4 linked regions of the Homo sapiens genome follow. The protein of the gene in region 2 interacts with the protein of the main gene of each other region in a pairwise test. Each region holds a gene or a part of one and is shown on either strand. Other genes may lie near its edges. The genes, in order: ZNF581, ASB13, POGZ and MSRB3.

Region 1 (6,943 bases), on a different chromosome or scaffold from region 2:
CCGAGGCAGGTGAATCACCTGAGGTTGGGAGTTCAAGAACAGCCTGACCAACATGGAGAAACCCCGTCTCTACTAAAAATACAAAATTAGCTGGGCATGGTGGCACACGCTTGTAATCCCAGCTACTAGGGAGGCTGAGGCAGGAGAATCGCTTGAACCCAGGAGGCATTGCGGTGATCCGAGATTGTGCCATTGGACTCCAGCCTGGGCAAAAAGAGTGAAACTCCGTCTCAAAAAAAAAAAAAGGAAACTTGGTTCACGTGTATTTTGCTTATCTGTATACTCTATTGCCATATAAAATGTGTTTGTAACAGGAGATTGTGGTTTTAAAATTGTTTCAGTTAAAAACATTCTTCCCAGATGACCCAGGTCTTCAGGAGCTGAGGAGGGGATAACCCCAAGGCAGGCCAACCTTCCCATTCCCCAGCCAGGCAAGCTGAGGTCTCCCTGCTAGACGGCCACCAAAGAGGGTCTGAGATGCTGTCTCTAAAAACAAACCTCGAGTGCTCAGAGTGGGAAACGTGTTTATTGTTTGATCAGTCTCAGGCCTGGTTGGGGGGTGGAAGGCAGGACTGGGGTCCCTTCCCCAACAACAGCGCAGAAGCCCCAGGAAGATGGCGCAGATTCCTGACGACCCACAGCCACCTTTTATGAGGCCAGAGACTTTACACACCACACTCCCCACCTCCATCCAGTCAAGGCTCTGCCATGGAACAGCTGATATCTTTAGGCTAGAGGACTCCATTCTGTGTAGGGGCTCATTCCCATCTCAGCTCCAGAACACGGAGGACCTGAAGATTACTCACGGATTCCTCCTTCAGGCAGGGCTCTGCCTTTGAGATGCGGCTGCTCTGTGTCTGTGTCCAGGGCCCTGAACACCAGCCTCAGGCTCTCACCAGGTGTCTGGACAGGAGTCCAGGCTCCCTGCAAAGTCCTGTGGTACCTGGGGCACCCGGCAGCCCGGCTCATGGATGCTTCCACCGCGTGTGTTTCTGCAGTGTGTTCTGCTCCATAAAGCGGCGAGGGCAGTGTGGACACTGAAACGGGCGTTCCCCAGAGTGCACCCGGCTGTGCTGGGCCAGCTCACCCGCATCCCGGAAGCGGCGAGGGCAGAGCGGGCAGCCGTGGGGCCGCCCACCACCCGCCAGGTGAATGGAATGGTGCCGTGCCAAGTGGCTGGCGCGCTTGAATGCCTTCCCACAGATGTCACACTCGAAGGGCTTTACCTCCGAGTGGGTGATGCTGTGTCGCTGAAGGTAGGACATGTACTCGAAGACCCTTGAGCACACGGGGCAGCTGTAGCACTTTTTCTGGCCTGGAGCCCCACTGGCCCCTGGCTCCCTCTGTGACTCCTCGTCCACCAGCACTGTGTAGGGGACACCCTGAGTGTCAATAAGCAGGTAGTGGTTGGGCCTTGGAGGAGATGAAGCCTGGGGAGATCCGATGGAGGAGGAAGGTCCAGGTTCTGGGGAGCGGCAAGTCCGACGGGGAGGGCCCTCCATGGTCTCAACGGAGGAAAATGCCAGAGGCTGAGGGCAGGGGGATGGCAGCACCAGCATCCGGAGGGCTGGCTGAGGCCTGGTGGATGGGAGATGGGATAAGAAGGTTATATAGAAGAGGGCAGCTCAGCACCACAGGCTCCATCCTTTTCCCTCCCTATACCCGGCCCAGGACCTCTGCATCCTGCTGCCCCTCAGTCCCTCTTTTCCAGTCCCGCTCACAGCTGGAGTCTGTGGCCCCCTAAAAGGTCCCCAGGGTCTTCCTCCTTGGAAAACCTCTCCTAGCCTCGGTGCTCCACCATACACTGTACTCACAGGATCTCTTGACCTCCTCTGCACAACCTGGACCTCGCTCTAACCTTCCTCTTTGTGCCCTCCCAGGTCACTGGGTGCCCCACCCCGCAGGCCTCCAGGCCTCTCCCTCCCCTCCTTCTAGCCCTTTCCAGGGTCTGCGTGTTGGCCTATGCTACATACTCAAGCCTTTCCTGACCCCCTCCATACAAGCCAAGCCTATTCACAGGGGCTCCGACGTTAGGACCCCCAGGTTCCGGCCCTCTCTCCAGCCACGTGTCTGAACAACTCCGTGCTCCCACCCGTCCACCCACCTCAGGTTCTCTCTAGTCCTCGCCCGGCCTCCACCAGGCTCGTTCTAGGTCCCAGCGCTCTCCGGGGTTCCACCCCCGGGGCCGCAGCCCTCGCTTTCTGGGCCTTTCTGTGTAAGTTCTCGCCCCCTCCAAGCTCCAGAACAGCCCCCTCCGGCGTCTGCCCCACTCCCGCCCCGGCCCAGGTACCCTCCACGCGGTCCAGCCCCTCCCGCCGCCCGCCCCCAGCCCCCTTCCTCCTCCCGGCCCCCGTACCCAGTGCAGCAGCCTCTCAGGTCCGGGCGACTCCAAGCGGCCCCGGGCTACCCTCGCAGTTGCAGGCGGCGGCGAGAAGGGGACCTCTGGGTGTGCCCCAGGAACTGGCGGCGCCGGCCGAAAGAGAGAAGCCGAAGGGAGAGAAGAGGGTCTAGGGAAGGAAGGTTGGGGCGGGGCGCCCGGGCCGTCGCGAAACGGCTCCGGCCAGAAACACACACCGAGAGGAAAGTACCCAAGCGAGGAAGATCCGGTCTCCACCCCCCAGCACCCAACGTGCACGCACACGCAAGGAAGAGCCTGAAAATGGAGTGCGGAATGTTTATTGAGCAAAGGGTCGGGGGCGTGGGCGGAAGGGGGGTAGATACAGAAATGAACCAGACCGTGCCCGTGCTCTTTATCATCTCTTCCCCGCAGACAACCACCGGTTCACCGCTCCAGAGAGCAGAAAACCAAGGTTTAGAGAGGTCATGTCACTTGCACAGGCTCACACAGCACAGCTGGACTGGAACCCAGTTCCGACTGGTTCCCAGGCCCAGGGAGGGGCAACGACTTTGGTCTACATCACACAGCTAGAAAGGGGGTAAGGAAGGAATGATGCTCCTCCCTTTGGAAGGTGGGGAAACTGAGGCCCAGGGTAAGGCAGTAACCTCAGCAGAGCCAGGGGGTGTGTGTGGGAGTGAGTGACGCTGTGTGGGTCAGACTTGGTGGCCCTGAGACGGGCAGGGCAGCACAGGCCGGGTCTCGAGCTTAGTGGAGGCGCACGTGCTGCGCCAGCTCCGCGGCGTCCTGGAAGCGGCGTGGGCAGAGCGGGCAGGTGTGCGGCGGCCCGGCGCGGGCGCGGTGCGTGGCGCGATGCCGCGACAGGTGGCTGGAGCGCTTGAAGGCCTTGCCGCAGGCGCCGCACGTGAAGGGCTTGAGGTCCGAGTGCGACACGCGGTGGCTCTGCAGCCGCAGAGGGCTGGCAAAGACACGGGCGCACTCCGGGCAGCTGTAGCCCTTGCGAGGGCCGGGCTCTCCTGGGGGCGCCTCGCGCTGGGGCGGGCCCCGGGGCTCCTCCTCCAGCTGCACCGTGTATGTGTAGGGGACCCCATTGGCGTCGATGAGGAGGTGGCGGCCCAGCCGCGGGGGTCGGGGCCCCGCCGCCGAGGAAGGAGTGGAGGAGGGGCCTTCCGCCTTGGGGAAAGGGGGAGCCTTGGGGGGCGGTGGGTCCATGGCCTCCGGAGAGGAGGACCGAGGGTGGGGTGGCCGCGGCGGCAGCAGCAGCATCTGGAGCGGCAGCTGGGAGCGGCGGAGGGGAGATTAGTTAAAATTGCCACTTCCTTTTAGGAAAAGTTTCCTAAAATGGAAAGCATCCCCACTATCACTGCTTGTTACCCTTTGTGCGCCACTGACTACCTCCCTAGCAAAATAAAAACTGTGACTCCAGCCCGGCTCTCCCACGTTCCATCAAGCTGCCTCGGAGAGGGCCTCCAACTGAGCTCTGCAAAACCCCGCCACCACCTGCCACTCCTCCTGGGTCCACCTCTCACCACTCAGGTCAGGTCTGAGGACGTAGTCCCCCGACTTTTCTTCCCTTTTCTCCTCTCAACCCACCCCAGCAGACAATCAATCCCTAAATCTGTTTACCTCTTTACATCTTAGACCCCGGGCCTCCTGACCGCCGAGATTTCTCTAATCTGTGGTTTCTTCTTTTTTCCTGTTGCCCAGCCCCAGTTCAGTTTACTTCCCCTCCCTTTGCCGCCCCCTACCCCCCCACCGGCCCCCGTATCGGCCTCCTGGCCCTCCGTCCCCACTACATGCCGCAGGGCCTCCCCATCTTCATATTCCGTGGCCTCCCTCACTTCCTCTCTAGGTACCTCCCCAGAGCCCCACTAACCCAATTCCCCACATTTCACTAGGGCTTTTCCATCCTGTTCCTACACTTAGCACCTCGAAGTCTAGTCACCTCTCCCCACTACGGAACCCATCGTCTTACTACATCTATACACCCCAAAATGGCTCAAATGCCTTCCTTCTGTATACCCCGCCCCCCCAACCTGGCTACCTGCTACATTCTCCCCAAAGGCCCCCTTTTCTCTCGCCCCCCATATATGGCGGTGACATCGTTACTTCTTTCTGTACCCATCAGGGGCCTTCTCCCAAACCCCGTTATGCACACCAGGCTCCGGGACTCCGCTTCCCACAGCACCTCTCCCAAGCCCACTTTCCCCTCCTTTCTGTGTACGTCTGGCATCTCTCTTTCTCCTCGTGTTCACCTCTTCCAGGAGCCCCATCCCTCTCCCTGTTACACACAGCGTGGTCCCCCGCCCGTTCTTTTGCTCTGCTCCCCTTGTTTATGGGAACCCCAGCGCCCGGGCGTTTTCGCCCCCATCCCGCTACACACCGCCTGTCCCCTGGCCCTGGGGCCCCTCCTATTGCCTTCACTTCCCCAAGGAGCCCTGGCGCCTCGACTTCCCCTCCCGTCCCTCCGCCCGATCCTGCCGCTCCCGACCCCCACCCCCATCCCGGGTGGCTCCAGCGCACTCCCCCAGCCTGCCTGGCCCCGGCGTCGTCCCAGGGCCAGGCTCCTCCCTCCATCCCGGCCCCCGTACCCCGTGCGGCGGCCTCTCGGGTCCGGAGGAACGGGCCGAGGTCCCGGGCGGCCCCGGGCTTCCCCTGGCGAGCGCCGGCGGCGGAACCGAGACTTCCGGGCAGCTCCGGGCCGGCGGCGCCGGGGACGCGGGGACTGGGGGCGCGGGGGTGCGAGGGGTTGGCGGAGTCCCTGGGAAAAGGCGCCGGCCGGAAGCGCGCGAGCCCAGTGCGGAGGTTCCGCCGCCTGGAGCCGGCGCTCCCACCCCTCGCCTCTGCGGAGCGCCCTGCGGGGAGGGGACCGGAGGCGTGGGGTCCACTGAAGACGCCCGCCCCCGGCGGCCCCGCTCCCCTCCCACCTCCCGAACGGAACGATTCCGCCGCTTGACAAGAGATCGGCCAATAAACCGAGACTAAGCAAAGTTACGTCTTCGCCCTAAGGCCCACAAGGGTTTGTCCTCTTTCCACTGGGCCGTCGCTGCCTGCTCGGCCGTGGCCACCCACCGAGGTAGAGGGCGGGAGAAGGGATGTTCCTGCCGGCTGAGCAAATGTGGAGACCGAGGTCCAGAGACCAGCCATTGGCTCCGATGTGGCCGGGCCGTGATTCTCCACCCAGCAAATGGGGAGGCCGAGGCCCGGAGAAGGCCAGACGCTGCCAGATAGTTGGGGAAGGTATGTTCTTTCCACGGGGCACATGCGGGAACCGAGGCCCACAGAGGGCCAGACGGCTGCATGCGCAGGTGGGGAGGTGTGATATTTCCAGAAGGCATGTGGCGACACCGAAGCGCAGCGAAGGCCAGGCTTTGCCAGATGCGGAGGTGGGAAAGGCTGGCACTGCCCACGGGGCCCACTGGAAGCCTGATGCGGGCTCGCGGGCTGCGCCAGGTCCTGGGGCACTTGAGGCCCGGGCGCTGGCTGCGCATGCGAAGGACTCCGGCGTCGAAAGCAACGCGCGGTGGCGCTGCAGCCGCACTGGAGAGCTGCACACGCGGCAGCACTCGGGGCAGCTGCAGCTCCTCCTCCAGCCACGTGGCGCCACGGCCTCGCAGGAGGGCGGCAGCAGCAGCATCTGCAGGTGCAGCTGAGAGTGGGGGACAGAAGAGGAGTAACTGTCACAGCGAGCCCCAAGACCCTGGGGTGCCACAGCTACATCCTAGAGCACTGTCCATCAGAACTTTCTGCAATGGTGGAAAGTTCTATGACAGTCACTAGCCACGTGGGACTCTTACACTCTTGAAATGTGGCTGGTGTATCAGAGGACCTGAATTTTAAATTGTATTACATTTCCCATAATCAGCACGGTGGCTCACACCTGTAACCCCAGCACTTTCGGAGGCCAAGGCGGGCGGATCACCTGAGGTCAGGAGTTCGAGACCAGCCTGGCCAACATGGTGAAACTCCTTCTCTACTAAAAGTACAAAAATTAGCCGGCCGTAGTGGTGCTCCCCTACAGTCCCAGCTACTTGGGAGGCTGAGGCAGGAGAATCGCTTGAACCCAGGAGGTGGAGGTTGCAGTGTGCCAAGATCGTGCCACTATACTGCAGCCTGGGCAACAGAGGGAGACTGTCTCAAAAAATACTAATTTCCCATAATCAAAATTTAAGCCACATATGGCTCCTACCTTATGGAACAATTCCAGAGACCACTGTCAACCAGTTGTAAACTGGAGGCCCAAGGGCCCAAAAGGCCTCACAGTTATATTTGGTTTGGGACACAAGGTACTTTTTAAACATTTTACTGGGCAGTATGTATATTTTTTGAGACAGAGTCTCACTCTGTCGCCCACGCTGGAGTGCAGTGGCATGCTTCTGGCTCACTGCAGCCTCACCCTCCCAGGCACAAGTGATCCTTCCACTTCAGTCTCCCAAACAGCTGGGACTACAGGCGTGGGCCACCACACATTTTGAGCCGGACCACTCTTTGTTGTGGGGGCCCATCCTGTGCACTGTAGAGTGTTGAGCAGCATCCTTGGCCTCCACCCACCAGATGGCAGTAGCACCCTCCCCCAACCCCAAGTTG
Region 2 (7,025 bases):
GAGGCTTAGGTGATTTAGGGTGAAAAGCGTCCCTCAGGTCCCTTAACTGAGACAGGGAGGATGCAGGATCAGAGCTCAGGGGTCCTGAGTCAGGGCCTGAGCTCCCACAGTGCCTTGAGGGTGGGACTGGGGGACCCTCCCCATGCTCCCTGGGCCATAGCCTTTGGGGTGGACCAGGGGCAAGGGAGGAGTCGGGGTAGCAGATAATTGGGTGAGTGATGAGGGAGTCAGGGGAGGAGACATTGAAGGATAATGCAGCGAATCCAGTGTGGTTTTAGCGTCCTGCAGGTGGAAGGAAATGCCTGTTATTCACCAAGCTCTCCTGACACCTTCGGTCCTTTCTCCCAGTTCCTTTACTCCTTAGCCCACCTATTTTCACCTCTTTTCTCCTTGTCTTCTGCTTTCATTTATTCTTTCCCTTTCTTTTCTCCACTCTTACTGAGTTTTGACCATTTTGTCCCTCTAAGAAGGCAAATACTGGCATTTTTGCTTCATTGAACACATCTTAAAATCAGTCTGCTGTTTGACCTCAAGTTTACCGACAAACTATATTTTGGGGATTCATAATGAAAACATTTAAAAAGACATGGTTGAAAAATATCACTGTAGCAACAAAACACTGAGCCCAGACTTGTAAGTGGGAGTTTCTACATAGAAAAATAAAGATCCATATTTTTTTTCCTTGGGTTTCAAGGACACTAAAACTGAAATTTGAGCTGCGCTATTAAAATTTGGTGATAGTGGTTAAGTGCCATGCGTTAGGCACCCTCTTTGTGCTGGGGTTGTCACGTACACTGTCTTTAGTTGTCACCATGAGATCCTTCATTTATCTTTTCCTCTGTGGTCTCTTTGTCTTTGTGGATTTAGCCCCCATTTTATTCCCTTACCGTCACTTGTGTGTGGTTTGGACAGCAGGCAGAGATGAATGGATGCTACATTTGGCTTTTTCTGGGAGTGTTAATCATCCAGGATCTCATCTCTTCTCTTCTCTTCTCTTCTCTTCTCTTCTCTTCTCTTCTCTTCTCTTCTCTTCTCTTCTCTTCTCTTCTCCCCTCCCCTCCCCTCCCCTCCCCTCCCCCCCCCTTCTCGACAGAGTCTCAGTCTGTCGCCCAGGCTGGAGTGCAGTGGCACGATCTCAGCTCACTGCAGTCTCCACTGCTTGGTTCAAGCGATTCTCCTGTCTCAGCCTCCTGAGTAGCTGGGATTATTACTGGGATTACAGGTGCATGCCACCACACCCAGCTAATTTTTGTATTTTTAGTAGAGATGGGGTTTTGCCATGTTGGCCAGGCTGATCTCGAACTCTTGACCTCAGGTGATCCGCCTGCCTCAGCCTCCCGAAGTGCTGGGATTACAGGCGTGAGCCACTGCGCCCAGCCCATCGTCCAGCATTTCTAAGGCCTTTTCAGTTCTGACAGTCAGCGCGTGTTCATGAATCCTTAGCTTTCTGGGACCCTGGGGGGCTATGTCACTCAGGACTCTTGACTTTTCCCTGAGAGCTGAGGATGAGCCCATTGAGAGCAGCATCAGAAAACCCTCCCTGGGGGCTTCCGGTGCCTGCCTTGGTTCTTCCAGGGTGGGTTCCCCAAGTGTGTGCTCGCCCGCCCCAGCCCGGCTTTATGGGTGGGTCAGGGTGGAGGGCCCACCCTCACCATTTCAAGAATGCTTACTGGGGTTTTGCAGGGAGGGCTTCTTACAGAGGCTGCTGGTTGTTTTTGACGCAGAAATGACATTTCTGCAGCCAGGACCCCAGACTCCCCTTGGTGATTTACTCGGAACAAAATTTCTGACTCCAGCAACATTTAAGAGTGCATTCTGGGCTGGGCCTGGGGCTCATGCCTGTAATCCCAGCACTTAGGGAGGCCAAGGCGGGAGGATCACTTGAACCCAGGAGTTTGAGACCAGCCTGGGCAACATGGTGAAACCCTGTCTCTACAGAAAATACAAAAATTATCCAGTGTGGTGGTGGTGCATGGGCCTGTAGTCCCAGCTACTTGGGAGGCTGAGGTGGGAGGATCACTTGAACCTAGGAGGTTGAGGCTGCAGTGAGCCCTGATCACACCACTGCACTTCAGCTTGGGTGACAGCGAGACCCTGTTTCAAAAATAAATAAATAAACAATAAGAAAACAAAATAGGAAAAAAGGTGCATCTTGGGTATTTGACCTGGATTCAAAGCCAGCATGCTACTGGATCAGCTTTGTCTGGAAGGTGTCCCTGGTGGCATTTGAGAATGCTCTTTGTTGGAGTGGGCCCTGACCCTGGAGAGGCCCCAGGCTCGGCGGGGCGGGGTTGGGGGCAAGTGGCTCTGCTGCTTTTATGGTTGCAGTCCCTGTGTGGGTCAAGTGAGGCCCGCCAGTGTGGGTGCAGGCAGGGCAGTGTGGAGGATGGGCTCTGGAGGTGCCCAGCTCTGCAGTGTGCAGGGGCCAGCAGGCCAGCTGCCTCCTAGACACAGGCTCTCTAGGGGGTGGCCGGGCCTGGGCACAGAGCTGCCACTTGGGCCCAACGAGTGGGGCTCTGGCTCTGGGATGACTGAGGAGATACTGGCAAACCAGCTGCCTAGGGGGAAAATAAAGAAAAAGAAACAAAAATAAAAGTCTGCTTTGCTGCTTTCCCTGGTCTAAATACTCACATCCTGGCTGCTTTCAAGCTGCTGGTGGTCTCCGGCCAGCAGAACCTGGCTGTGCAGCAGCCAGCTGGCGAGATGGCCCGGCACACTGCTGGGTGGCTTGCAAGGCAGGGAGCGATGGAGGGGCTCTGGTCTCAGAGGGCCCGGGAACTGAGCAGAAAAATTGGGCAGAGACTCAATCAGTCACCCGACTTAGGTAAGGATTGAGTTACTGGAGCTGGAATGCAAGATTGGGGGGCTTGCTATGGAACAAAGATGAGATGGTAGAACCCGCACCTGCCCTCCCCACAGGACTGGTAGGGTAATAATGACAGCAATGATCCTGGAGCCATGGCAGTGCCTGTTACTCACAGCATTTACAGGTGGCCAGGCACGATTTTCTTCAGTCTTCACAGCACCCATTTGAGGAGAGAGGAGGCCGAGGTTTGGAGAGGGTAAGCTGTGAGACGAGCTTTGAACTCACGAGCAGGGTGGTTCCTGCAGCTTGCCCCTGTAGAGTCTGCTCCCTGAGGGTAGGCTGACCCTGAGCCACTTGACCTGTTCAGCCAGGGCTTCCTAATCTCAAAGGACAGGTCAGTCCTGGGGCAGGGCACAGCCTTAGATGGGAGGGTGTCGGGGCCCCAGCAAAGGGGCAAGAGAGGGGAAGAGGAGCTGGGGTCCAGAAAGGTCCACACCTGGCACACGGTCCTAGCCAGTAAGGTCGTATCGTGGGTGGAAGAGTGGAGAGAACGTTCTGAAGCACGTGTCATTCCTTCTCAAGGTGACGTCTGCCGTAGTCTGCAGTAGATACATAGGTGACATCTGTGAAACTCTAGTTTTCAGGGCAAAGGCTTTTGCTTGGCTATTCATGAGCTCAGGCCTGCAGGCGGCAGGTAAACAGGAGGAGCCATAGTGTGTAACACCGTGACCCTGACCTGAAGCAGAGGAGGAAGTGGGTAGAATCCAGCCATCAGGACTGGGTCATGAGTCACCAGGGCTGCAGCCTTGGCTCTTGTTGCAACACAAGTTCTTCATTTAATGGATGCACGAGCCCCCGCTTGGCCAGAGTGTGCAAGCATCATGTTAGGTCTCAGGCCACTGTCCTGGGCTGGAAAGTGGAGCAGGGGACAGAACCTAGCGGCAGGGGTCCAAGTTCAGTCTGGCAGGGGAAGATGCGTCTGGGGAGTGCTTATTCATTCAGATACCTGCACGAGCAGCCTGTGTGGGGAGGCTGGCTAGCTGTGGTACTATTCCCAAGGTGACAGGGGATGGCCTTAGGGAAGGCCCAGGGAAGGGAGAATGCTGATCAGCTGGTGGTGGGGCAATAGTGTGGAGATGGCGTGGGGGGGTGGGCTGCATGCTCGGGAGGCTTCCTGAAGGAGCAGGGGTCCCCTCAGTCGAGGAATTTCAGCCGGAAGCAAGGTGGGGAATGGGGCTGAGAAGAGCTTTCCAGGCAGGGGAAGGAACAGCATACGCAAAGCATGGGACTTGCAGCCACTGGACTCTGTGTGAGTCGGTAGAGTTTGGTGTCACTGGACACGGCTGTGTGCATGACGGGGAGCCTGGGGACAGGGCCTGTGACTGCATGGTCGTGGACCTTGTTCCTTGCCTGGGTTCCACCCTGGAGGAGGGAGCCCTTGTGAGCAGGCCCTGTCAGACTGGCTTGTCAATCATCTGCATTAGGGAGGGGGCAACCTATTATGTGGCAGCAGTGGGTGGGATTTAGGGGCAGAACGTGAGTCCCGGAGGGAACTCGCCAGCACGGCATGGAGTCTCGGGTTTCCAAGGCGGTGCTCCGCCAAGGGAGAGGGTGCAGGGATTGGGGAGGGGGGGCGTCTTGCCACCACAGGGAGCCTGGCACAGGGGCTGGAAGCAGCCTGCAATCCATCCTGGCCAGTCCATTCACTAACAGACAGCATTTCCTGTGCTCACTCCTCATCCATTTAAGGTCCGTGACCATAAGCTGTCCTTCCCGATTCTTTTCACCTGGGACACTGACCCTGCCATTGCAGGGCTGAGTCACATTGCTCTGTGGTGGTGGGTGCTGGGGGCTGATGTTTATGAAGAGAGTGGGTCTCTTCGCCCCCTGGAAGGGCCATCGGTGGTTTGGGGGTGTCAGGAAAGGTGACGAGGTGCACCCCAGGCACCTGCTGTCCTCTAGCCTTCTATCCCTCCCTTCCCCACTGTAAATCTCCTATGAGGACAGCCTGCGGGTGACAGTCCCCCCATGCTCTAGGTCCTCCAGCTTCTGGTTACTTAAAAATTTTTTTTTTCTATTTTTAATTGTAGTAGAGAGCACAGAACACAAAAGTTACCACCTTAGCCATTTCAAGTGTCCACTTCAGTAGGGTTGAGTACATTTACATTTTTGTGTAACAGATCTCTAGAACTTTTTCATCCTGTAAAACTGAAATTCTGTCCCCATGAAACACTAACTCCCCATTTCTCCTCCCCCAAGCCCCTGGCAACTACCTTTCTACTTTCCATCTCCATGAATTTGACTACTCGAGGGACCTCACATAAGTGGAATCATACAGTATTTGGCTTTTCAGAAATGGCTTATTTGGTTTTGTTTTTTTTTTTTTTTTCAGACAAAGTCACCCAGGCCGTAGTGCAATGGCACGATTTTGGCTCACTGCAACCTCCACCTCCTGGGTTCAAGTGATTCTCCTGCCTTAGCCTCCATAGTAGCTGGGATTATAGGCATGGGCCACCATGCCCAGCTAATTTTTGTAATTTTAGTAGAGATGGGGTTTCACCATATTGCCTGCCTCGGCCTCCCAAAGTGCTGGGATTAGAGTTTTGAGCCACTGCACCTGGCCAGAAATAGCGTATTTATTTATTTATTTTTGAGACAGAGTCTCTCTCTGTCACCCAGGCTGGAGTGCAGTGGTGTGATCTCAGTTCACTGCAACCTCTGTCTCCTGGGTTCATGCGATTCTCGTGCCTCAGCCTCTGAGTAGCTGGCACTACTGAAGCACCATGGATTACAGCCACCATGCCTGGCTAATTTTTGTATTCTTAGTAGAGACAGGGTTTCCCCATGTTGGCCATGCTGGTCTCGAACTCCTAACCTCAAGTGATCTGCCCGCCTCGGCCTCCCAAAGTGCTGGGATTACAGGTGTGAGCCAGCGTGCCTGGCCTAGAAATGGCTTGTTTGACTCAGCATAATGTCCTCAAGGTTCATCCATGTTGTAGCATGGGACAGGATTTCCTTCATTCCCAACGCTGAATAATATTCCACTGGACACTTGGATTGTTGAGAATAATGCTGCTATGAATGTGGGTGTACAAATGAATCTCTCCTCAAGACCCTGCTTTCAATTCTTCTGGAGATATGCCCAGCAGTGGAGTTGCTGGATCATATGATATCCTATGTTTCATTTTTTAGGAACTGCCATACAGTCTTCCACAGTGGCTAGACCATTTTATATTCCCATCATCAGTGCACAAGAGTACCACTTTCTCCACATTCTCGCCAACACGTATTTGGTTTTTTTTGATAATCCTAACAGGTGTGAGGTAGTATCTTATTGTGGTTTTGATTTGCATTTCTTTAATGATTAGTGACCTTGAATACCTTTTTTTTTTATGTTTGTGGCTGTGTGCATCCTGTTTAGAGAAATGTCTGTTCAACTCGTTTGCCCATTTTTAAACCTGGTTATTTGTTTTTTTTGTTTTTGAGTTGCAGGAGTTCTTTATATATTCTGGACTAACCCCTTTTCAGATATATGACTTGCAAATATTTTCTCCCATTCTGTGGGTTGCCATTTCACTCTGATTGTGCCCTTTGATGCACGGAAGTTTCTTTTTTCTTTTTTTCTTATCATGTCTGCTGCTAATTTTTGCCCTGAATTGCTGCAGTAAGACTACAGCAGCTGATGTGATTCACTAGAAATAAGTTGCATTTCCTTTGTAGACTGGTGATACAGAGAAATAAAATTAGATTTTCTTTTAAAAATTTTATGTCTAGTTGTAACTGAACCCAGATTTGGCTGCTTACTGCTCAAAAGCCAAATACGAGAGACAAGAGTTGGTGGCAGGTTTATCTGGAGAGCCAGCAAACCAGGAAGATGGTAGATAAGTGTCTAAAGTGCCGTCTAAGTCAGTACAGGTTTCGGGTTCTTAATTATGTTAAGGGCAGTGGGAAAAAGAGGCTGTTGGGATCAAGAGGTAACCAAGGACCAGTGACATCTGGGCACCAGTGAAGGTCCTAGGAGGTTGGGAACATCTTTGTCCTTGATCAGGTCGCAGTGCTCCTATAAATCTTTAACAAAACATAGCTAGTTGTTTACATGCTTTCCTTTTAATCCCAGAGTTAATTTCAAAGCTACACGTTTGCTCTTTTTGCATATTATCTTAATGCTCTAAAATTATCCTAGCCTCTGTGTAAGAATGGATAAAGGCCCCTCAAACAA
Region 3 (7,025 bases), on a different chromosome or scaffold from region 2:
TTCACATTCTGGTTCAGTAGGCCTAGGGCGGGGCTGAGAGTCAGCATTTCTAACAAGCTCCCACCTAATACTACTGGTACTTGAATAGCAAGGCCCTATGAAATTAGAGCACAGACCATCAAAACCGAAAAAACAGAGCCTCTCACTCTGCTAGGAGAGAAGAACAAATAGCTCTAAGAGTTGAAGGAGGAAACATATTAGAAGCAGGGGAGAAAATGAAATGAGTGCTCAAGAATCTGGCTGGGGCCGGGCGCAGTGGCTCATGTCTGTAATCCCAGCACTTTAGGGAGGCCGAGGCAGGTGGATCACCTGAGCTCAGGAGTTTGAGACCAGCCTGGCCAACAAGGTGAAACCCCGTCTCTACTAAAAATACAAAAAAATCAGCCAGGCATGGTGGTGCACACCTATAATCCCAGCTACTTGGGAGGCTGAGACAGGAGAATCACTTGAACCCAGGAGGCAGAGGTTGCAGTGAGCCAAGATCATGCTATTGCACTCCAGCCTAGGGGACAGAGTGAGACCCTGTCTTCAAAAAAAAAAAAAAAAAAAGAAGAAGAAGAAGAAGAAAAAAAGAATCTGAACTCTCAAGCTAAAACACTGGTTAAAAACCAACTTACTTGATCATGTGGTTGGCATAAGCTCGAGAACAGCAGGTGCTATAGCGACACAGAGAGCAGTGTACGTAAGTAGGGAAATGATTAGGGAAGTCTGGGATCTCGAAGCTGCACTCCAGGCATGTCTGCCGGCCCATGACACTCCTGTGGGGGAAAAAAAAAAAGAATTCTCATTACTGCCTCATGGGTCCCCAAAATGTAGGATTTTCAGACAACAAACCCTGCTAAAAAGCTACCAGATTGCACTGTGTATCAGGAATAATCCTGGCCACCCAGTCCCCACCCGCCCAGCACTTAGAAGAAGGCGCTGACATTTTCCTAACAGCTCTCTTCTGGATGCTGCGCTGGACAGGGGGATAAAGGAAGACAGGCAGAGGGTCCATTGAGGAGGTCAGCGGTGCTGCCTCCTGCAAGGCGCTGGGAGGTGTATCATTAGAGGATACAGGAACAGTTCGTGGCTGCCCTCGGGAAGCCCGGATTGTCACCTGAGAACCAAGGGAAGTAACAATGAGACATCACCCACACTAAATTTCAGAATACTGAAAATCTCTATTCCTCCCTCCCTGGGCCTATAAAAGACACTGGCAAACTCTTTACCTTGGTGCCTGGTTTCAAGCCCTCCAGCTGCTTGGGTTTACGGAAGGTTTTATGGTGTTGAAGCTTGTGTTCAATTTTGTCCTTGGCAAAGAGAAACTGCAGCCGGCATTTGTTGCAGTGATAAACATTTCTCTTCTGAAGTGGGGGAGGGAAAAAAAGAGACAAAATCCCTTAAAGGTTCCTAATAAATTTTCTTTTTTGAGGAGAAAGCAGATCAATGTCAACCATATCATTCTTCCCACCTTTCTGTTGATAATTTAAGAGAGTAAGAAAGAAATATGCAACATGACCACAAAACCTACCATTGAGAATCATCACCTCCCATGATATCAAAGAAAGATGGATTCTAGTCCAGGATGACTAAGTTCTCAAATCATCCTTTCCTGACTTGTTTTAACAATTTGAATGAGTGATGTAACCTTTATTTGTATTATATCTTTACACTGCTGACAACTGGACATTCTTCTGGACATTCTTCATTCTTCTTTTTTTAAAAAAGGACAATGTACATAGTAAACTAAAGTCATACTTTTTTTTCTATACTCTTCCAACTTTGCTTTCAACTCCAACACTCAGTCCCCTTCCATACAAACAACTTATTACCAGTTTCCTGAGTATGCTTTCGTGGGCAGTCTACACATATAACTGTATCACAAATACATTCATATCCAATCATTACCTGCCTCGCCCCCTTTTTTTGAGACAGGGTCTCTCTCTGTAGCCCAGGCTGGAGTGCAGTGGCATGTTCATAGCTCACTGCACGTCCCAAGTAGCTGGGACTACAGGCACGTGCCACCACGCCCGGCTACTTTTTGTATTTTTTTGTAGAGACGGGGTGTCACCATGTTGCCCAGGCTGGTCTTCAACTCCTGGGTTCAAGTGATCTACCTGCCTTGGCCTCCCAAAGTGTTGGGATTACAGGCGTGCATCACTGTGCCTGGCCCTTACTTTTTTCCCTTTCCTTTTTGTAGAGATGTTGTCTCACCATGTTGCCCAGGCTGGACTCCACCTCCTGGGCTCAAGTGATCCTCCCACCTCAGCCCTCTTCTTTTTCTCCTTTTAACACAAATGATAGCACTTGTCTATACCTTGCTGTTTTCTCACTTAACACATCAGTATATACAGATATGTCTCCTGGTGAGACCACTTTGAGGATTCAGTCTGCCTAGTATTGAAGTCCTTCAAAAATAGAACCCATGTCTATGATTTTCTTTAGTAGGATAACAAAGCTCTGTAAGCTTAGGCTAAGAGACAATTTCCATGCCCCTATTTGGAAATACAGTTGTGGTAGACAATCAGCAGTCACTACTGTGCAAAGGAGACTATGAGTGTAATAGGGTACATATGTTTGTGTGCATATGTATGTGACTATTAAGCACACATGCACTCATCTTATTCTCCATTTTGAATCCTCTCTTATATACTATATACCTTTCACTCTCCTCTAGTGGCTCTCTTCTTGTAGTATTTTAAAACGAAGTCATAGCTTTTCATCTTATAAGGAAAATAAAAGCAATAAAAAACTCTTCTTTGCCACTTCTTCCTCTGGATTTACCTACCCTGGGTCCTCCCTTTTTATAAATAAACTTCTTTAAATACATCGTCTTCATTTCCTTACCTCTCATTCATTTGTTCTGCTGAAATGTGACTTCCACCCTACCAACCAACAAAATGGCTCTCATCAATGTTGCTAAATTAAAGGCCTGTTTCTAAGTCTCTATGTTGCTTGACACCTTCCTGTAACATATGACATTTTGATCACACCCTTTTCTTTAAAACACTTTCTTCTCCCCAGTTTCCTTAAGGTTAAGACTCTTCTGGTTTTCCTCCTAGTACTATGGTGGTTGCTTTATAGATAAGGGACTTCAAATATCCTAAGCCTTCTCTTATTCTCAACAGGGTTGGGGGGCCCATGGTATTTAAGTTTAAAATCTATAGGATTTATATAACGCTGATTCCTAAATCTTTTCTACAACCCAGAGTTCTCTCACAGGCTTGAGATCTATTATCCAACAGCTACACTTGACATCCACAGATACTGCTAACTTACAATATCCAAGCTCATGATCTCCCCCCTCACAAATATACTTTCTCTATTGTTTCTATTTCAGCAAATAGTTCCCTCATTCACCCAACTGCCCAAGACAGAATCTTAGGCACTATTCTTAACTACTGCATTGCTACCTTCACCTAATCCATCTCTACATCATAAATATCACAAATCTTCTGAATATCTCTCAACTCTACCCTCTTTTTATTTCAAAAGCCAATAGCCACTATCATCTCTCACCTAAACTACTGAAAAAGGCCTTCTAGCTAGTTTCCCTAACTGTAGTCTCAATCTCCTTTAATCCATTCTCTGCAGTGCAGGCAGTATAAAGCCTTAACTAAAGCTGAACACATCACTCCAGGGCTTAAAACCCCTTTAGTGGCTTCCCAGTGAATTCTTTTCATGGCTTAAAAGATCCTCCATGATCTGTCCCTGCCTAACTTCCAACCCCTCTGTCTCTTACACCCTACACTGAATCTCTCTCAATTTCTTGAACCTCCACAATTTTGCTTTGTGCCTTGGGCACACTGTTCTTCGTCTTATTTCATCTGGCTCATTCTTATTCATCCCTCAGGTATTGAACAACACTTCTTTCTGGAAGCCTTACTAGGCACCCAGAATAGCTATGTGATTTTCTATATCCTATAATTTCCCCAACACAGTACTCTTCATGTTTTATTGTATTGTTTGCCTTGTTTACTACTAAATCTCTAGCATCTAGACTAGTACATGGCACATTAAGTGAATTCAATAAATTTCTGCAAACATATGCATATTATAATCTCTGCCCAAATTATTTGCCTAGCTCAGCCCTGGCCCCAGCATCCATGTTTAAAAAAAAAAAAAACAAGAGAATATGGGAATTGCTTGGTGCCTAGTACCTGGTGCCTCATGTAATGCTGTTGGAATGCATTGCCATTTTTGAAGACCTTCAGGCAATAAGGGCAGAGCAGATGCCGGGTATCCTCATGGATCATCCGAAAATGGACATCTACCTCAGAGTAGAGTGAGGAGCGATATTGACACACCTGAGTCACATAGGAGGGAAAATAAGGCTAAGAATGAAGTGAACAACTGAGAGGCCTTAAAAAAAAAGGTAGCAACAAAAATTTTTAAATTAAAAAAAAAAAGTTTTCTCAAATGCATAGAAATCAAATTATTTTCCTGACTTTGTAATGCTGGGCTATGTTTGTGATAGGTTTAGCTATTACTTTAAAAATAGGAAGGGACAGAAAGTCTAAGAATAATCCATGTTCTCTAACTAAGAAAAATAAAGCCTTTTCTGTCAATTTCCAAAGGGCACGTTCAGGAGACAGACACTCCCTTAGAATATGCACATGTTCCCGGCTAGTCTACTTGTGGACATGTTCTTTTATGTTTTTCTCCTGCATGGAAACCCTGAAGATAAACTGTGTTTACTATTTCTTCTGTACCTACTCAGAGTTCCTAAACTGAGTGTATGCAGTAGGTGGTCAACAATATTCATTAGTAAATTCTTTGTATTCTTCCTGAGGGCAAAACTGCTAAAACTCCCTGGAGAAAAAGGCAATACCTGGCAAACATAAGGCATCTCTCCAGGCTTATGAGTATCCTTCATATGCTGGAGAAATAGTGGCTCACTTTCAAACGCCCATTCACAGATCTTGCACTTGGCTGTAAGAAGAAAAGTAATCAATAAATCCACTTGAAAATAAGACAAAAGTCCTGCTGACTCACAATCTTTATTTTCTCTGCCTCCTTTATTTTGATTTTCAACAATCAGTAAATCATAGGTCCCTTCTGTTCTTTCTTTAAATGGCTCCACCTTAACATATATGTTGCTGATAATCTTATGTACGTAGCTCAGACTTCTTACCAAAGCTTCATTCTAGATTTTATCTATAAGACATTTTAAATTGGTTATTCTATCGTCAACTCTAACCTAATTCAGCATCCTCCTGTCTTACCACTGTTTCCCTTTTTCCTTTCCCCATTTCTTCCTGAGCTCAAAATTTAGGCACTATCTCGGATTCCAAACCCTGCATTCTGTCACCATTATTTCAAACTGCATGTAGGAACTGTCACTTCTCTATACTTATAATAAGGCAAAAACTTGGTACTAGCCCATATGATTTCCCACTGCTAATCAGCTGGCCTCCAATACCTCCTACTCTCTTTGAAATTGTCCATTTTGTCAAGCTTATGAGAAAAAATTTTGACAAAATTTTATGACACAAATGAACAATTTTGTCAAACTTCTGAGACAATTTTTGGTAATTTCATGTTGGCCAGGTTGGTCTCGAACTCCTGACCTCAGGTGATCTACCTGTCCCAGCCTCCCAAAGTGCTGGGATTATAGGTGTGAGCCACCGTGCCTGGGCTTTTTTTTTTTTTTTTTTTTTTAAGAGACAGAATCTCACTGTTGCTCAGGCTGGAGCATGATCATAGCTCACCGCAGCCTCCTGAGTAGCTAGGACTATCCTTTGAGCTCAAGCGAGCCTCCTGTTTCAGCCTCCCAAGTAGCTAGGACTACAGTGGTGCACCACCATGCCCAAGTAATTAAAAAAAATTTTTTTTTGTAGGGACAGGGTCTCGCCATGTTGCCCAGGCTGGTCGGAAACTCCTGGCCTCAAGCAATCCTTTTGTCAATCCACTTCAGTCTCCCAAAGTGCTAGAATTACAGGTGTGAGCCAGTGCACCGGCCAATTTTGGTAAGACTTTTAACTGCTACATATTTTTAATTATACAGTATGGCAAAAAGAGAGAGATTATTTACATTTTTGTCACTTTAATGGAATTAGTTTCAAGTTTTTGCAAATATGAAAACTGGAAGCTTAAAGCCTTGGGCATTTACTGGACAATGTCTAACCTCCCCCCGCCCCCAGCCCCCTACACCCCAGCCAAAGAAATATGAATAAAGTTGAAATAATTCTTTTTTCTTTTTTTAACTACCGAGAACCCTGGATTTTTGTTTTGAGACAGAGTCTCGTTCTGTCTCGCACGCTAGAGCGCAGTGGCTCAATCATGGCTCACTGCAACCCTGACCTCCCAAGCTCAAGCAATCCTCCCATCTCAGCCTCCCAAAGTACCAGAATTACAGGTATGAGCCACTGTGCCTAGCCAAGTAATTTTTTAAAGTAAAACAAACAAACAAAAGCCAGGGGTTCTTAATCTGGGGTCTATGGAACAGGCCTCTAGGAATCCAGGCTTTCTCTGAAATTATTTGCAAAAGAGTAAAATGTAGATTTTTCTAGGAAGAGGATTCAAACATTTCATATTTATTCTCAAAGAGGTCTGCAACTCCATTTAGAAACACTGTCTACAGGTACATTAGGTGCTATGAGGACATGGATAAATAAGAAATTCTGCATAAAGGAATGAGGAAAAGCTATAACAACATATAAAAGCTGAATTGTCAAAGAATGGGGCTCAGCCAGCCAGAGAGAGGACCAAGAGAAAAGCAGGAGGAAAGGCAAGTAGGTATGAAAGTTAACCACATGTTTGGGAAACAGTTAACTAGCAACATAACGATATTATCTCTTTTCCACTCACCCCCCGATTTGTTTACCTCTCTCATTTTTCTCTTCTAGAACACCTTTAAGCAATATTTTGTCCAGGCCTTTCTTAGTCTATGTTTTCCCTGGGCAATCTCATTCACTCTTTCTCCTATAACCTATTTATCAGCTCTATTTTCACAGCTGTCATGCAACATCAATAATAAAAACACTTATTAAGCAATTTCTAATGTACAAGCATCAGGTTAAGATTTACATGTGTTGGCTGGG
Region 4 (6,928 bases), on a different chromosome or scaffold from region 2:
AGGCCTGGGCTTAACTATCCCCAAAAACCAGTTAGGCATTTACCCTATGACATAATCAGCACTTTCTGCTATTAGATGAGGAAGAAAAAGTGATAGAAGCTTAACACGGAATCTGTCCAGGTATGTATGTATCTTTGTGCATGTTCCAGGTATTAACACAATCCTGAGACAGATCCGGACTCTCCAACACTGGACCACACCCATCACATCTGGCTAAGGTAGGCCAGTTTGACATGTATAGCAAGTCACAGGCTGACAATCAGAAGTTTGAACCACATGTAGTAGGTGGCTCTGAAGAGTTACATAAACAAAAACAACATTATAGGATCTTGGAGTTAGAAGAGACATGGAAACTGTCCAACTTAATAATTTTACCGAGAAGCTAAACATGGGAATCAAATTCATCAACCAAATCCATAACTATGATAAATTAATTATACAGGTGCAGATAAATTAGAGGGATTGTGACCAGATTATGACAGAACCAAAAATGCAGTGGTGTGATCACGGCTTACCACAGCCTCGATCTCCCTGGCCCAAGCAATCCTCCCACTTTGGCTTCCCAAGTAGCTGAGACCACAGGAGTGAGCCACTATGCCCAGCTAATTTTTTTTTAATTTTTGTAGAGACAGGGTATCCCTATGTTGACCAGGCCGGTCTCGAACTCCTGGGTTCAAGCAATCCTCCCACACTGGCCTCCCAAAGTGTTGCATTACAGGCATGAGCCACCACACGTGGCCTTAAAATCTATTTTTAATTATTAAATGGCATATGTATTAGAAAAACTGATGAACCTTACTGTTGGGATAGTCTTTGGATATTCTTTTGAGTTGAGCAAAATAGCAAGGATTTCTGACTTAATGGATTAACATCTTAGTTAAAATATTAGAACAAGCACTTTTAAAAACAAAAAGCAGTGTGTTGATTCAAAATCTAAATTACATTGTATGCTGCAACCTTGCCATACAAGCAGTTTAAGCACTGTGACAAAATTCTAGATAAGTAGCAAAGAGCTACTTATCTTAATATAAAAATTTCCAGATATTCATATAGGGCCCTAATAAAAGTCATCAGAAATTAGACTGATATATCAGCTGGGACCGGAATTAAAAGAATATATGTTTAAATGGTCCAAATATAAACTTGATGTTCAAAATTACTGGCAAGGGGCCAGTACAGTGGATTCTGGTCTTCGAAGGCCGTTTCACCACAAGTATTAGGTAAGTCAACACATCACTGAGGAAAAAGAAAGCATACATATGTTTCCTGGCAATAAAATCCACTCTTCACTATCCAGCACAGTATTTTTTAGAAATCCATTGAAAAATGTGAAATTAGAACCTGTTGTATTTCCCAAGAAGTGCTATTAAAGTTACTTCCAAAATATGAATCTATAAAAAACAGGGTTTTTTTGAAAAACAATACTATGCAGAAAGAAACATGAAACTGATATCACTGCTCAAGTTACTATTTACAAATTGCAAATTGAATAAAGTTAAATATTGTAAATATCTGCCATTAATCTGAACTGACAATTTTATAAGTTATATGAACCCTGAAGTTTTTTTATAGACAAAATTGTTTTTGAAAATCGATCTTGCCACCAGCGCTGCAAATGAAAATATGAAGAGATAAACCAGAGAGTACTGAATATAATCTATGCTTCATAGAGTCATGTTTCAACTAATTTATGAGTCCTAGTTTGCCATATCTTATTTGACAATTTAGTCTATTGGTAGAAAAAACAAAAGCAAACTAAAATCTCCTAAGAAATCTCAGCTCTAAGGAATTATAATTTATATTCTTCCATTCCCGATAAAATTAAGAAGCAAGAAGCTTTGACGACTACTCATCACAAACGTAAAAGTCCATGCAATTTCACATTTACCTTTATCCCTACCTTTGTACTTTAAAATAACTGCTTTTTAAAATAATAATCTGATATTAAATTCCCCCCAACAGTTCCCACATGATTCAAGAAGATTATCTTATAAAGTCTTACTGTAACGACTTCATAACTGCCACTTCCGATAGCTATTAGCCCTAAACCAAATAAGGCAGGAACAGCACTTTTCATTCATATAGTTTGACTCGAAATAGCCCAGTGTAAAACTTCAAAAATAGACTTGGATGCCTTTTTCTGCTTAAAAACAAAGCAAAACTGATACCTGGCAAACTCGGGGTTCTGTTCGATTTTGGCCTGTGAAATGCCAGGCGGGCCCGCTGGAGTCTGGCCCAGCAGCGGGGCAGCAGCGCAGGGAGGGCGGGCGGCGGGTGCGCTCCCGGGTGCGCCCCTCCCTGCCGCCTGCCCGCCGCCCCGCACCCCCGTCCTCTCCGAGGCGCGCGGCGAAAAGCGCAGGCCTGGCGGGCCGGTTCCCACGCCTCGGGCCCGTTATCTGAGCGGCAACCCCGGCAGGGTCGACGCACAGAGCAGAGGGCTCCGGGATGGACCCCTCCCCTGCCTCCCGCGGGCTGCCCCGCCAGATCCCTCTCTCCTGGGCCCGCGCGGGGCGAGAGGCTCCCGCGGGTTCAGGTTCGCTCCCGGGACAGGATAAGGTGTCAGTGAGGCTGCCAGACGCCTCCCTTCGGCGGGTGGGGGGAAACCAGCCCTGACCTCCTTCCGTTCGGCCCCTCACCGCTGGCGCGGGGCGCAACCCTTCTGCTCCCCTTCTCGGCTGAGGCAGGGGCTGTCCCCGCAGGTGGCCGAGGGGGCGCAGCAGGCGCAGAATGGAATCCCGGCTCGGGGTCACACCCTAACGTGGCAGGGTCGGGGTGGGAGGGGTGAGGCGAGGAGGAGAGGGGAGGGGAGCCCGAACTTACCGGACTGCGCACTTCCCAGAGCCGCGGCCAGGCAGAGGCAGAGGCAGAGGGAGAGGCAGAGCGAGAGGGGGCGCGGGAGGGTCCGCCGCGGGCTCATGGAAAGGCCAGGCAGCCGCCGCCGGTGTCCGAACCTCGCTCCCTCCCTCCCCGGCTCCGGGCGACGGACGGGGCGGCGGGAGGCATGACGGGAAATTCCTGGGCACGGGCAGCCGAGTCCAAATATGAGCATAGGAGACGAGCGAGGGAGGACCACGGAGCGCGCCGGCCGCGGACGGGGCCCGCTGCCCGGGGCTCGGCGGCCGCCAACTCCCTCCTCCTCTGCCCTGTCCTCTTCCTCCTCCTCCTCCTCCTCTGCACCGTCCTCCTCCTCCTCCTTCTCTGCCCTGCCCTCCTGCTCCTCTCCTCCCCCTCGTCCTCCTCTGCCCCAGGGCTGCCGGCCGCCTTCTGCCTGGGGGCATCCCTTTCCAACTCGGGACCCCAGAACACAGCCAAGCGCCCACCTGGCGTGTTCCACCTGAGACCGCTGAAGGAGTGGGAAACGGACAAACCAACACGAAGAGACCGGACAGCGAGCCAGGGACCTGTGGGAAGACGTGTCAGGGGTTGTTGAGAGCGTTGGTGGTGAGGGGATAAAAAGTTGTGGGAGAGTGAGGCAGGAGCAGGGCTGCCAGTTAGTTACTTGGCCATCCTATACATACAGAACGAGCACTCACTGTAATACGGAGAACCAGCCGCCTGCGTTCCAGGTGAGCGGGCCCTCTCTAGCAGAGGAGGGTGAGTGTGTGTGTGTTCTTGGCCAAAATTGCAAAGGTGCTCGTCCCAAACTTATATTTGAACACCATATATGGAGCCCAGGCAGGCTGGCTGAACAGTAGTTTTTCACAACAAAATGCTTAAGTTTACACCGGTCTTTCTCTCCACCTCCAATCTCTATTCATGTCCACCCCCCAACCCCCTCCACACACTTGTTTTGTATGTACCGTAGCTTGTCTAAAATGAAATGGTGTAATTCATTCAGAAGGTGCCACCTCTGATGAACAAAATGTCAGTCCTAGATGTTTAATTACAGGCCCAAGCCTGTAGTTGCCTAATTTTCCTTGGCACTGATAACTCCTTGGGTAATCAAGTCCAAATGACCCTTAGCTTTTCAAGACAACATAATTATGTCTTAATTACTATAATATATTTTTTCCCTCAAACTAATGGGACAGGACCTGGATATGTAGGGTATTAAGTAGTTACTTACGAACATTTTAAGATGCTAGATGATACAGAAATGATTTATTGATCCAAAATACTTAAGGGGTAAATGTCAAACAGATTTAGAGTGTGGATTATTTCAACGTGAACTAAAGTGATGGTAATTTGTACATCACACTATTTGTTTGAAAATGCTGTATTTGAAAATCAAGAACGTTGTTTCAAATCAAACTCAGTTCTGGCAAACTATTAAAACACATACACCAAAAAACAGTCCATTGCAAGTGGCTCCCCTCAAAACATCTGGTACTGAAAAACACCACATCCTGTGAATTACATATAGCAAATGGGCAAATGTCACCCTTAATGCATTGGCAATTATAATGGGACTAAGGGTAGATGACCCAGATAAAGTAATGGTGAATAAATTGTAATGCAATGAATAAAGGATTTAAATGACACATAACATGACTATTTAATTAGGTACCTAGAACCTAGGTAGTTGGAAATACTGAAGAAGCTCTTCAGTATTCCCTCCGTTTCCTCTTTTTTTATAGCCTTGTGTTACATAAGTGTCTGTTTTTCTACTTCCCCCACAACACTTTGCAAAGTTCTTTGCCCATAGTCCAAATGTTTGTTTAAAAACAAAAATAAAATGGGCACAGCCATTTGTAGAAAGGAATTTAGAAGCTCCCTAAGTGTAAAGCATGTTTCAAAGGATTGCAATAATTATGCCTATATTTAAAATATTTTAGTGAAGAACCTTACATACAAAAATATAGAATTATAAAAAATGCAATATCATTACAACCCAATTCATGTTAGTAAAAATAGAGAGTTCATTGTATCAACATAGCTGACATCACTGTCAGCAATGCCAACCACTATTCTAAAGGCTTGAATAAATATGCTAAGAGTGGCAGAAAAGAACTAAAGTTACTAAGTGCATGATAAGTGCCAGACACTGTGCTAGATGTTTTTTATAACTGATATCTCATTTAATTCTTACAAATATCTCTGAGATTATTTTTATCCCTATTTTACAGCTAAGGAGACTGAGGCATAGGTAAGTAATATGCTACCAGGAAGAAGTGAAGTAGTATTAGAATTAAATCCTCATTCTAAAGTGCATATATACTTTTACCATACTAATCTGTCTTATTTTCTCTACATTAAAAAAAAGTGGCATTCAAAAACTGTATTCATTGGGCGCTTTTGGTTTTAAGTAACTGGTATGCACTCAGGTTACCTCAAGTAACCAAGGTAAAGAATACATGTGGAAATAAGACCAGAGGCTTACCTGGCTTGTCAGATCATCCTTTGTAGGCATGGTGGGCGGGGCCTGTGCCTTTGAAAGCTAGGGGAATGGGAAAGGTACTACCCCCTTGACCACATTCCTATAAGTTTTGTAGTTTAACCATTGATATTTTAATCATGTATTTTACAATGCTTTTTAAATGTCTTCTTTATTATAGCCTTAATAACAATCATGTTACCATATTCCATTCAACATTGATTTTAAGGGTAAAGACCCAGAGGAGGTAGCTGCTTCTGCCTGCTTCCTACACCATCCCTCCCCCAACCCAGTGGTGTGCTGGTAAACATTTAACAACCAGATCTGGATGAAAGGGCTAGGGGCCCTGATCTACAGTATTAACCAATTCACATGGTACAAATACTCCCACCAACCAGATGTCTCTGAAGGCAGGGTTGGGAAGGGATCCACACAACCAGTTTTTGGGGCCGTAGAGCCAGCTCTGGCATACCACAGCTGCAACTCATGAAATGTCTTCAGAACACACAATAATTCAAGTTGTGTAACCACAGCTCTTTGTCTCTCTGCCTGTATTTCCACTTCTGTTCCCACAACCAGGTGCCAACTCTCTCCATATATCTCATAACCAAATGCCCCAGGGGGGAGAATCTGATTCTATCACCATTCTTATATTGAGTCTGTCTCACAAGCCACTGGCCGCCCCCGATCCAGGTGCTAGTTCTTCAGTTGTGGCTAAGATGGGAAGGTCACATGCCAACAGAACATGGCCACCCATCCTAAATAAACAGACTGTGTTGCTGTCTTTTTATAGGGCTGTGCTTGGGGCAGCCTCTTTCAAAAAGAATAGGTAAACATGAAAGGCATCTAAGCTGTAACCTGCCCAAGGTGCTATTCTCAGCTCTTTAATAAAATCTCCTCAGACACTGCACAAAGCCTTGGGACAGCCCCCACTTCACATATACCAAGAAACATCTTAGGTGGATGCCAACAACTGCAAAACAAGTGCCACTGTTCTAAACCAATTAATACTCAATTGGAGAGTGAGAGTAATACCTCTTAGGGGGATGTAATTCTTCAAACTACACTCAATACAAACTCCCCAAATTCTGCTTTCCTATAGTGGGAAGTGGGCGGTCAATACTCTCACCTCTGAGAACACTGCCTTACACTGATAGAAGCATACCTCTTGCCTCAATGTGCTACAGTGGGAATAGGGTTGAGAACTGTCCTCAACAATGTCGGGGGCACACCGTGAATACTGACTGGCTAAGGGAGACATCTGAATTTTTCTCTCAGATTCTGAAAAATGATCTCCATTGCCATGACATCATCCAGCCCCCAGTCACCAAGTGTGTTAAAATAATAAGCACTCACTACCAGGAAATCAGGTGGGATTCCTAAGCAGAGAGAGAAGACCAAATTAAAGTAACCATTGTCCTTCTTTTCACAGTAAAGTTATTTGCCTGCATCTCCGATGATGGTATTTTCTGTTTGACACAGTCGAAGCTATCCCTTTTGTTGATTAATTCTGGAGGAAGTTGAAGCCTATACTCCCGTGATTGACATGCTGCCTGACTCTGCCAGATTTTGCTTTGGATATGCTGCAGTAAGTAATAAATATTTAACAAGATT

Evidence for each region.
Region 1: the proteins of ASB13 (region 2) and ZNF581 interact in binary tests that used the Homo sapiens proteins (3 or more experiments, as listed by UniProt).
Region 3: the proteins of ASB13 (region 2) and POGZ interact in binary tests that used the Homo sapiens proteins (3 or more experiments, as listed by UniProt).
Region 4: the proteins of ASB13 (region 2) and MSRB3 interact in binary tests that used the Homo sapiens proteins (3 or more experiments, as listed by UniProt).

The regions. Positions count from the first base shown.
Region 1 is NC_000019.10:55,639,188-55,646,130, reverse strand, and holds ZNF581 (zinc finger protein 581), read right to left. Parts: upstream 2,483-6,943; 5' UTR 2,357-2,482; intron 1,579-2,356; 5' UTR 1,560-1,578; coding exon 966-1,559; 3' UTR 508-965; downstream 1-507. Other genes in the region: ZNF580 (zinc finger protein 580), read right to left, coding at 3,104-3,622. UniProt on the Homo sapiens protein: May be involved in transcriptional regulation.
Region 2 is NC_000010.11:5,656,591-5,663,615, reverse strand, and holds part of ASB13 (ankyrin repeat and SOCS box protein 13), read left to right. Parts: intron 1-7,025. UniProt on the Homo sapiens protein: May be a substrate-recognition component of a SCF-like ECS (Elongin-Cullin-SOCS-box protein) E3 ubiquitin-protein ligase complex which mediates the ubiquitination and subsequent proteasomal degradation of target proteins.
Region 3 is NC_000001.11:151,407,483-151,414,507, forward strand, and holds part of POGZ (pogo transposable element with ZNF domain), read right to left. Parts: intron 4,915-7,025; coding exon 4,814-4,914; intron 4,290-4,813; coding exon 4,143-4,289; intron 1,347-4,142; coding exon 1,212-1,346; intron 1,100-1,211; coding exon 927-1,099; intron 759-926; coding exon 618-758; intron 1-617. UniProt on the Homo sapiens protein: Plays a role in mitotic cell cycle progression and is involved in kinetochore assembly and mitotic sister chromatid cohesion.
Region 4 is NC_000012.12:65,274,758-65,281,685, reverse strand, and holds the start of MSRB3 (methionine-R-sulfoxide reductase B3 isoform 2 precursor), read right to left. Parts: upstream 3,004-6,928; 5' UTR 2,918-3,003; coding exon of another isoform or gene 2,821-2,917; intron 2,730-2,820; exon of another isoform or gene 2,169-2,729; intron 1-2,168. UniProt on the Homo sapiens protein: Catalyzes the reduction of free and protein-bound methionine sulfoxide to methionine. Isoform 2 is essential for hearing.